Linked DNA regions of Homo sapiens: region 1 is linked to region 2. The links come from fine-mapping of genetic effects on gene expression. A gene starts in region 2. The other region holds a variant in brackets. All regions are shown on one strand. Distances are between the middles of the regions.

Region 1 (4,388 bases), 38 kb after region 2:
AGAAAAATGGGGTATAGAGAGTAGTTTGCCCCAACTCAGTGTTACAGATGGAAAGCCAGAGAGGAACCCTAGGACGACTGGATGGAAATATAGGGCTCTGTGTATGCTTGATGGGCTTTCTTCCTTTCTTGGTGATTTTCGGCCTTCACTGAGCATTAGAATCACATATAGAGGACTGAAAAATAATAATTGTTCCAACTCATTCCCCCAAATCCTGTCTGATTCAGCAGGTCTGGGGACTGGTATAGGCATTTTCAAAATGGTGAGACTGTGGTTCTTCCTAAATTGAAAACCACTATCCTCTCAAGTAAAGACCTAATCGTCTTTTCTAGCCTTACCTCCCATGTTATCCTTATCCAGATACCAACCTTGGGTCAGGCCAGGCTGGTAAATTCATTGTGTCCTGGATTTCTCTTGCTCTATCTGGCCTGTGCTCCTTTGTTTCTATGAGATCCTCTGCCTAGAATGTTCTTCCCAGTCCTCTATCCCTACCCAAGAATTCTCCTGCCAGGGTTCAATTCAATCCTGCCTTTTCCAGGAAGGCTGCCATGAATCTCCACGGCCATGGGGATTCGCCCTTCATGGAATCCTTAGTTTACTCATAGCCAGGAGGAATTATTTTGGCATTTATCATTTATTGCCTTATGTTGCTACAGATCTGTTTCATGGGTTACTCTTATCTCTGCAGAGGGACTGCAAGAGTCACAGAGAGTGTGAGAGAAGGCAGAAAGAATGAATAGAGGATTCAGAGTCAAGAGTCTTGGGTCTGACCCCTGACCCAGCCAACTATTGGTGACATGACCCCGAGCTGATCATGGTTTCCTTACTGTTATTTTTGCTATCATTTGTTCACTTTGTCTTAGAGTTTTAGTGGTCTTCATTCCAAAAAGAAAATAATGTAGGAAACCAACAATTTCAAGATTCTGTATCAAAAAGCACCTAGCAGCATTCCTGTAATCTCAGAAGCTCTCAGTATCTTGCAGGTCTCAATCTGAGACCTAAATCCAAGCCTTCTGTCCAATTCTGTTCTAATTATACCATACTAATGTGAAGACTTGGATTTTCTGAAAAAAACGCAACTTAAAAAATGTGATTTTTCGTCACATCCTAAATGCAAGGAAATCCCAGGTCTTCACCTGTAAATATGTGTCGAACTAAAGAATGAGCAAATGAAGCACAACTGGAGTTCTACAGGAAACACGCGAAGAGGAAAAAGAGAAGGAATGATCACACCTGACAAGGAAGGTCTGAAACGTCTTTGAAGATGTGACATTTAGCTGTTGAGGTTTTAGGACATAAATAATTTCTCTCTTCCTCTGAGGATTCAGAGTCAATTCAGTATGGGCACTAGGGCCAGAAGGAAGAAACTCAAACTATCAGTTGGTAACTCTGGATTGGAGAACAGGCCTCTTTCCCCTGCCTTTGCAGTATAAACCCTTATGAGGGCAGGGCCAGTCCCAGGCAGACGTTCTCACCCTTCCCACTACAGAGGGCATTACTCCTTCATGCCAGTCCTGCCCCCGTGGAGGGACTTGCCCTGAGCACGGGGCTTCATGACTGCCTCTAGACGGCAACCACAGGGAGAAAGTAAGTGGGAGCCAGGCAAGAAGCCCTTGATCTGCAGGCAGGAGGAGCCCTGAAGACGGAGGGATGGTGGAGCTGAGCTGGGTATGCTCAGGTTCTGATCCCAGTTACTCCTCTTCTCCTAGGAAGAGCGAGTCAAAGATGGAGTCAGGGGCTGGGAATGTTCCTCCATCTTTTCTCCTCCTAAAGAGAGTGGTGAAACTCTCGACTTTGCCTCTCCTCTCTGTGGAAATAGGAGGTACGGGTAAGCATTTCTCCCTAAAAATGGTCATGATGATAGCAGGCAGACATTTAAGGACAAAAAAGAATCAGAGGAAACTGTATGTATAAATTGTACATATGCATGCTTGATGTGTGAAAATGTGGAATATGTACATGGAAGGGGGTGCACCCTGGTGCATGAGGCCTGTGGTGCACAGAAGAAACTAGAAGAGAAGAAGGAAAAAATGATATTGCCAGATTTTGAGAGCCTCAAATTCCAGGCTTAGGAGTTTGACTTTGATCATCAGGCAGTGAAAATCTATGCCTTTTATTGGAAACATAACTCTAAAGCCTCTGCCTGCACCAGCATAGCAAGCAG[A/TTCTTGTCATGGCAGA]AAAACTGGCCTTAGCCACCCCCTCCACTTGACCTACTTGTGAGCAATCCTAGGTGGAGTCTCCTGGACTCCAGAATAAGATCATGCTGCACATTCACCTAAAATATATTGCAGGAATTCTGCAGCCAAATATCCTTGACATGAATACAGAAACAACAGAAATACAACAAGCAGATGACTGAGAATTGGACCCACTGGTGGGGATTTGGAGGTGGCAGAGTGCAGCCTGTGGAGTGTTTGGCCCTGAGGGTCACATCATTCTGAGGACAGGGCAGAGCTGCAGGTGAGCACTTAGTGAGGGTCAGAGGTAGCATGCAAACATGAGCTTTGGACTCATTAACTCAAGTAAGAAACAGCACTGGGGGAAATAAAGGCTGACCCATCAACAGAGGAATTATATTCAACTCTGGCGAGAACCACGCCAACAGTCCAAGCAATTTAAGAGATGTACTTAACTAGTGTGAGGAGGAGTCCTCTAATTTCTGTCTCCAAATTGGATAGCATGGACTCTTTACATTTATTCAGCACACTGCAGTGTGTGAAGCCCTTTCACATAACATTACTCATGAGTTGTCACAAACAGCTCTGTGAAGCAAGGAGAGCTAGGGGAGTACAATCCCCATTTTAGGAAACTGAAGCCATGAGTTCCATGAGGAGGTCTCAACTCAGGCCAGCTCTCCCTCTGGCTCCACTGTAACCTTGTGGTTTTATTGATGGGGGCTTTCCTTGAGGAAGAGGATGCAGGAGTTGATCTGGCTCATCAGTCTGTCCCCCTGTGGAGGTAGAGGCCTGCGCTAGAGAATATTGTTATGGTCCTTCATCCTGTAAGGTACCATCCACACGTACTATTTCCAAAGTGACTGAATTTGCTTAATCCAAAGTGGTTAAGTAGAATGACAAACAGAGATGGGGTGTTAAAATTAGGGTTAACTGACAAGATTAAGAACGTCCTATACTGCTAGATTTATTTTCCTCCTTTCCTGGTCTTTTAAATGGGCCTAAAATATATAAAAGTGGATACAGAGATACAAATTGGTAGCTCTAGGGCCAGAAGATGTTTAAACTAGTGTTTTAAAAAGCAATAGTTTGAACATCAAATTCAAGTCATGTACCTTCCAGTTTGACAAGGTTTGTACCATTCCCTATTGTCTTATATCAGACCCACTTTTATTCCTTCAGTCAGTCAACAACAACTATTTACTCTACGCCTGTTCTGAGCCGGGCGTTCCCCCATAACTACATTTTCATTACCTGCCTGGGCCCACAGACACTTGAATAACTGGTCTCCACCCTAGACCACAATCGAGGGGAGCTCATGTTTGACGAATGCTCCTTTATTCCTCTGAGCGTAACCTCCGTACCTGAAGTTTACATCACCTCGAAGCTAGGGTGTTGTAACTAATGTTCACCCTGGGTCTTCAGAGATTGGTTTTTCCAAAGACTCTGCTGCTTTTCCTTTTAAAATCCCAGAGCCAGAGGCAAATGGTAGGCATTCCTCTCCCCAGAGCCCAAATAGGTGGCTGAAACCTGGAAACTTTCAGGGACTTGCCAAAGGCCCCAAAGGTAGCAGGGAGGCCTCCCGGAACGACTGGTCCTCTTGATTCCAAGCCCAGAGGTAGATCTCCTGTCCTTGAGGGGCTTTGGTTTCAGACCCTGCCTGAGAGAACAAAAGAGACTTCAGTTGTCACATCGACACAGCCCCGAGCTGCTCTATTTTCTAACTTGGCTGGCTTTCCCCGTGTGCTGTTTCACATCAGATACCTCCTCCCCCCACTTTCCTTCAGATGATTGGTTGAAATTAAATATCCTGAAATTACATTGAAGGGGGGGGGCGCTAATACAAAATTTTAATCAAAATACAAGCTTAACAGTTCCCAGCCTTTGAAATGTGAAGCAGACACTGGGTCCGCAGGGATGCCCCGACATGTTCTCAGGTGTGAAGTTAGCCAAGGAAGGGGCCCATTCTCTGAACATGAGAATTGCAAGTAAACCAGCACATTGCAAACTCAGGATTTCCAAATGAGGCAGGGCCTTCTCTCCCTTTCCACAGCGTGCATGGGCAGGCTGGCCCAGAGGGAAGTTCTCACTGAAGACACTGGAGGAGAAAGGGTCCCTCGTGAAAGGGTCTGGGGGTTCTCCCTGCCCCACCTGGCTTTGATCCATAGGTATGCCATCCAGGGCCTGAAAGCTCAGGAAGGAAAGGACTGGATAAAGGAGCTTGCAG
Region 2 (4,379 bases):
CGGCTTTGGGCCTGGCAGGCTGGCACATCCATATTTGTATGGAAAAAAAAAAAAAAGACCCTACGCTACCACTTCAAAAAGTGACATGAAGTGTAGTATCCTGGCCCTTCATTGTCATTCTCTCATGATTTTTGTTTTGTTTTCAACAAAAATTGGTTGGTCATTAAATATATCATATGTTAGGCACAGTGACCTGGTTATTTTCACATGTTACTTCATTTTCTTATCAAATTAAATGTTTGTGACATAGTATTATTATTACCTTCCTTTTTATCAATGAGGAGCCTAAGATTCAAAAAGATTAGACAGCTTGTTTAAGGATATGGAGCTAATAAGTGTTAAGACTAATTAGATTCAAATTCAAATCTTACTTCATAAGTTATAATGAGGTCTCTTTCCTCCCTTCCAAATAGAGTTATTAATTTCATGGCCTTTGGACCCATCTGGTACAGATTAATCATTTCATTAAGTTCCATGCATAAACTACACAGCAGTTACACTGCAGGTCTAAGGATTCCTCCCTCCTCTTTTCCTCCTACCCTCTCCTGCTCTCTCTACCTCCACCTTCATCTCTACTCCACCTGTACATATGTATTCCACCCCTGGCTCTAGATGAGAGAAGACCACAGCTGAAACACATCTTCTGATGCTCCCTAATTTTATGTAAACCAGTCCAAAATATATCAGTTGTGACATGTGACACTGAGTACCTACCATTTTGTAGGTGTCCTCCCATGCAAAGACCACAAGAGGTACGCAGACACAATCCTATCCTCTAGGAAACTTGAAACCTTAACAATCTGGTCAAGGAAGTCAAATGTGCAAACTCAAACAGCCAATACTAGAAGGCTGTTTGTCTTCAGTGCCAGTGAGGGTCACACATGACCCTGAGGGTCACACATGAAGGGAGCAGAGATCTTTATAGGCTGGAAGTGGTCAGGAAAGAAAGACTTGAGGTAGCCTGTGATTTTGATGGATGGGCAAGATGTGGATGGGTAGAAAGGACAATAAAGTGGAAACATATGCTGGGGGATCAATGAGTTTGAGTAGCAGCTTCAAATTGGGGATAGGGTGGTGTAGGACCACCTCTCATGATTCCTGTTCCTGGTGCCTTGTATAATCCCCAGTAAGAGTGCTCTTTCCCACCTCTGAGCTCCATTCTCATTACTCATAAGAAACCTCCTGGAATCCATCCCTTTTTCTTTGTATTCTGACTATTAGTTGCATGTTACATCCTTCCCAAATGTAAGGGAGTGGAAGATGGATTATCACAATTATTGGGGAGTTTGTCTCAAACGACACAAGCTGTGGTTCTTTTTCCTTGTCTGGAGAACCTGCAATGGGTGGAGGGTGGGAAGTGGGAGATCACAGTTCCAGAAAGTAAGCACCCTGAGAGCAGAAATGGTGTCCCATTTCTCTGTGGCTCTAACAGGGAACAGGCAGGGCCAGGCACATATTGGATGGAGAGGCAGACGAACGAATGAGTCTTTAAAAGTAGCTTGGTCTACAGCTATGAAGTTTGTAGCTTGAAGAAGGGTCCCTGTGACACTAACCCTGATATTAATGAGGCATTTTACAGTGAGCCAAGCACTTTGCCTTCCATCGTTGTGTGTAATAGTCCTATGGAGAGGGCAGGGAGGCATTTGTAAATGGCCTGCTCAGAAGCCTATATTTACAATAAGTCCAAGCTTTTCCCACTGTACCTCTGCCAGTGTGAAGATCATTTGAAGATGGCTTTCTTTTTTTTAATAGGGACCAATGACATAATGTCTTGTTCAGTGGTTCTCAAAGTGTGGTTCCCAGATCTGCAGCAGCAGCAGCACCTGGAAACTTGTTAAAAGTGCAAATTATCAGGCCCCATCCTGTACCTATTGAATTAGAAACTCTAATACTGGGGCCCTGGTTTTTTGTTTTCGTTTTGTTTCATTCCCCCACCCCGAACCCCCACCCCAAGTCCTCCAGGTGATTCTGATGTGCATTTAAGTTTGAGAACTACTCGACCATTCTATTTCCAACTGATTCATGTTGCTTAATTCTTTGTCTCATCTATGAAAAACAGTCCTACCTCAGACTTCAGCTTGTCAGGGCCCATTCCTCAGAAGGTGAATTGAACTGAATTTACAAGTCCCAAGAGCCCTCAAAGGAAAACACACGAAATGCCCTGAGGAGTGGCATTTGTAACAGGGCCTGTACAGAGATCTGTGATTCAAAGTACTCATCAGACATTCCCATGGGGAAGTCCGCCACTACTCTGGGATTTCAATACGTATGAACCCCAGCACCCTGAACACTGTGCTGGTTGCCCAGCCTCCATCATTAGGCTGGGAGGAGCTTCCACGGAGGGCGCAGGACCCAGGGCGCTGAACTCTCACAACCAATCAGGCGACCCCCCCAGAGGGAAACTACAAGTCCCAGCATGCCCCACGCGCACCGTCAGGGGCCGACCCGCCGCGCCCCAGCGTTCTCCGCGTACAGGTGGTCTCTTGGGTTCCGGTAAGGCGGCGGCTGCGGAACTCCCGTGGAGGGGCCGGTGGGCCCTCGGGCCTGACGATGGCAGTGGCCACTGCGGCGGCAGTACTGGCCGCTCTGGGCGGGGCGCTGTGGCTGGCGGCCCGCCGGTTCGTGGGGCCCAGGGTCCAGCGGCTGCGCAGAGGCGGGGACCCCGGCCTCATGCACGGGAAGACTGTGCTGATCACCGGGGCGAACAGCGGCCTGGGCCGCGCCACGGCCGCCGAGCTACTGCGCCTGGGAGCGCGGGTGATCATGGGCTGCCGGGACCGCGCGCGCGCCGAGGAGGCGGCGGGTCAGCTCCGCCGCGAGCTCCGCCAGGCCGCGGAGTGCGGCCCAGAGCCTGGCGTCAGCGGGGTGGGCGAGCTCATAGTCCGGGAGCTGGACCTCGCCTCGCTGCGCTCGGTGCGCGCCTTCTGCCAGGAAATGCTCCAGGTGTGGGCCTCGGGGGGCCGGGCTGGTGGGGAGGGCCTGGGCACGGTGTGGGAGGGGACTGCGGGCTGGGGCTGAGCCGCGAGGGACCGCCCTGGGGTTCAGGGTGTCACCTTGGGAACCGCTGAGGCTGAGAGGAGTCCAAAAAGCCACTTTGAGGCGGCCGGGAAGCTGCAGGGTTGAGAGGGAAAGAGAAACTAACTGGGAGGGCTGCCTTCTGTCCTCTAAGGATGTCGAAAAAGAAATGGGCCCAAGAGAAAAATAAATAAACCAGTTTCTGAACGTTTCATTTCGTTACGTGAGGACCGCCCCGAAGTAGATCCATGGCCTCTGAATTGTTTTTCCTGTGTCAGAAGTGAATTTGCACCAAGCTGTGTCTTCAGAACCCCTGAGCACTGGGGGAAGTTGCTAGCTAAGGACCTCATATCAGTCCTTTAAAAAAAGTTCTCCTTCCCCCGGCCTCTGCCCCTTTTCTGCTGGGGTAAGGAGCTCGCTGCCACCAGTAAACTCAGCACCATCCTTAACGGGACTGTGGCCTGATTTCCAAGTAGAATACATTTTGGAACCCAGTGGTCATGCTCCATACAGAGACAGGAATAAAAATAACACCCAGCATTATTGAAGATCTGTATGCCAGGAGCTGTGCCAAGCATTTCAGATTTTCCTTTTTGTCTTAAATGAAAATGAAGTGTCCTTGCCTATAACTGTCATTGAAGCTACACAGTAACCCTGTGGAGTAGGCATTATTATCATCCCTGTTTTACAACGCGAGGAAACTGAGGCATAGGAAGGCTAAGAAACTTGCTTGTGGTCTGTCTCCAGAACACTTGCTTTTAACCCTTGTTCTTTCCTCCTGCTGCCTGGCAGTGAGGTGTGAGGATTTCTTTGTGCAAATGGTAAGTAATTCCACATAAGTGGATGTTCTCCGTTGAGATTGAGGTAGAAGAGTTTCTTGCAGGGATAACTGGCATTCAGAGGGCATTTGTTCAGAAGAGTGAAATTTAAAATTAGCTGGGACAAGAAAGGTGCCTATATGACGTAGAGTCTCTTGAGTCTAGAGAAGAGGTTCCCAAATTTTCTCAGTAATTTTTTCATGATGCCCTTAGGCCAGAAATATTTCCCAGTTCATTTATTTAGAAAGTTTATTTTGCCAAGGTTAAGGATGCACCCGTGGCAGAACCTCAGGCGGTCCTGAGGACATGTGCCCAAGGTGGTCGGGGCACAGCTTGGTTTTATACATTTTAGGGAGACATGAGACATCAATCACATATGTAAGGTATACATTGGTTCTCCTGGAAAAGTGGGACAACTCGAAGTGGGGGCTTCCAGGTCATAGGTAGATGGGAGACAAAAGGTTGCATTCTTTTGGGTCTTTGATTAGCCTTTTACTGAATACAATTTACATGTGCAGGAGGGATAGAGGAATAATCACTTATGTC

Which allele goes with the higher level. Alleles are on the strand shown, and positions count from the first base shown. SD is a standard deviation of normalised expression in the study named.
With allele TTCTTGTCATGGCAGA in place of A in region 1, the expression in sun-exposed skin of the gene that starts at base 2,470 in region 2 is higher (small effect, 0.28 SD a copy in GTEx).

The links.
Region 1: its variant is fine-mapped to the expression of RDH14 in sun-exposed skin (GTEx, PIP 0.90).

What each region holds. Positions count from the first base shown.
Region 1 is chr2:18,520,775-18,525,162 of GRCh38, reverse strand. LOC105373454 (a long non-coding RNA gene) reads right to left here. Exons shown (of 8, transcript XR_001739302.1): 8 at 1-3,821. Among named protein-coding and RNA genes, the nearest start is that of RDH14, 38 kb to the left of the region's middle. The variant A/TTCTTGTCATGGCAGA (reference allele first, on the strand shown) is at 2,165.
Region 2 is chr2:18,558,744-18,563,122 of GRCh38, reverse strand. It overlaps RDH14 (retinol dehydrogenase 14), which reads left to right and starts at 2,470. Exons shown (of 2, transcript NM_020905.4): 1 at 2,470-2,943. The coding sequence starts at 2,551. The region is part of intron 10 of NT5C1B-RDH14 (NT5C1B-RDH14 readthrough); the gene reads left to right. NT5C1B (5'-nucleotidase, cytosolic IB) reads left to right here. Exons shown (of 9, transcript NM_033253.4): 9 at 1-252. LOC105373456 (a long non-coding RNA gene) reads right to left here and starts at 2,947. Exons shown (of 6, transcript XR_007086234.1): 1 at 2,432-2,947. RefSeq lists enhancers at 2,061-2,280, 2,291-2,340, 2,401-2,450, 3,261-3,310 and a silencer at 2,541-3,050.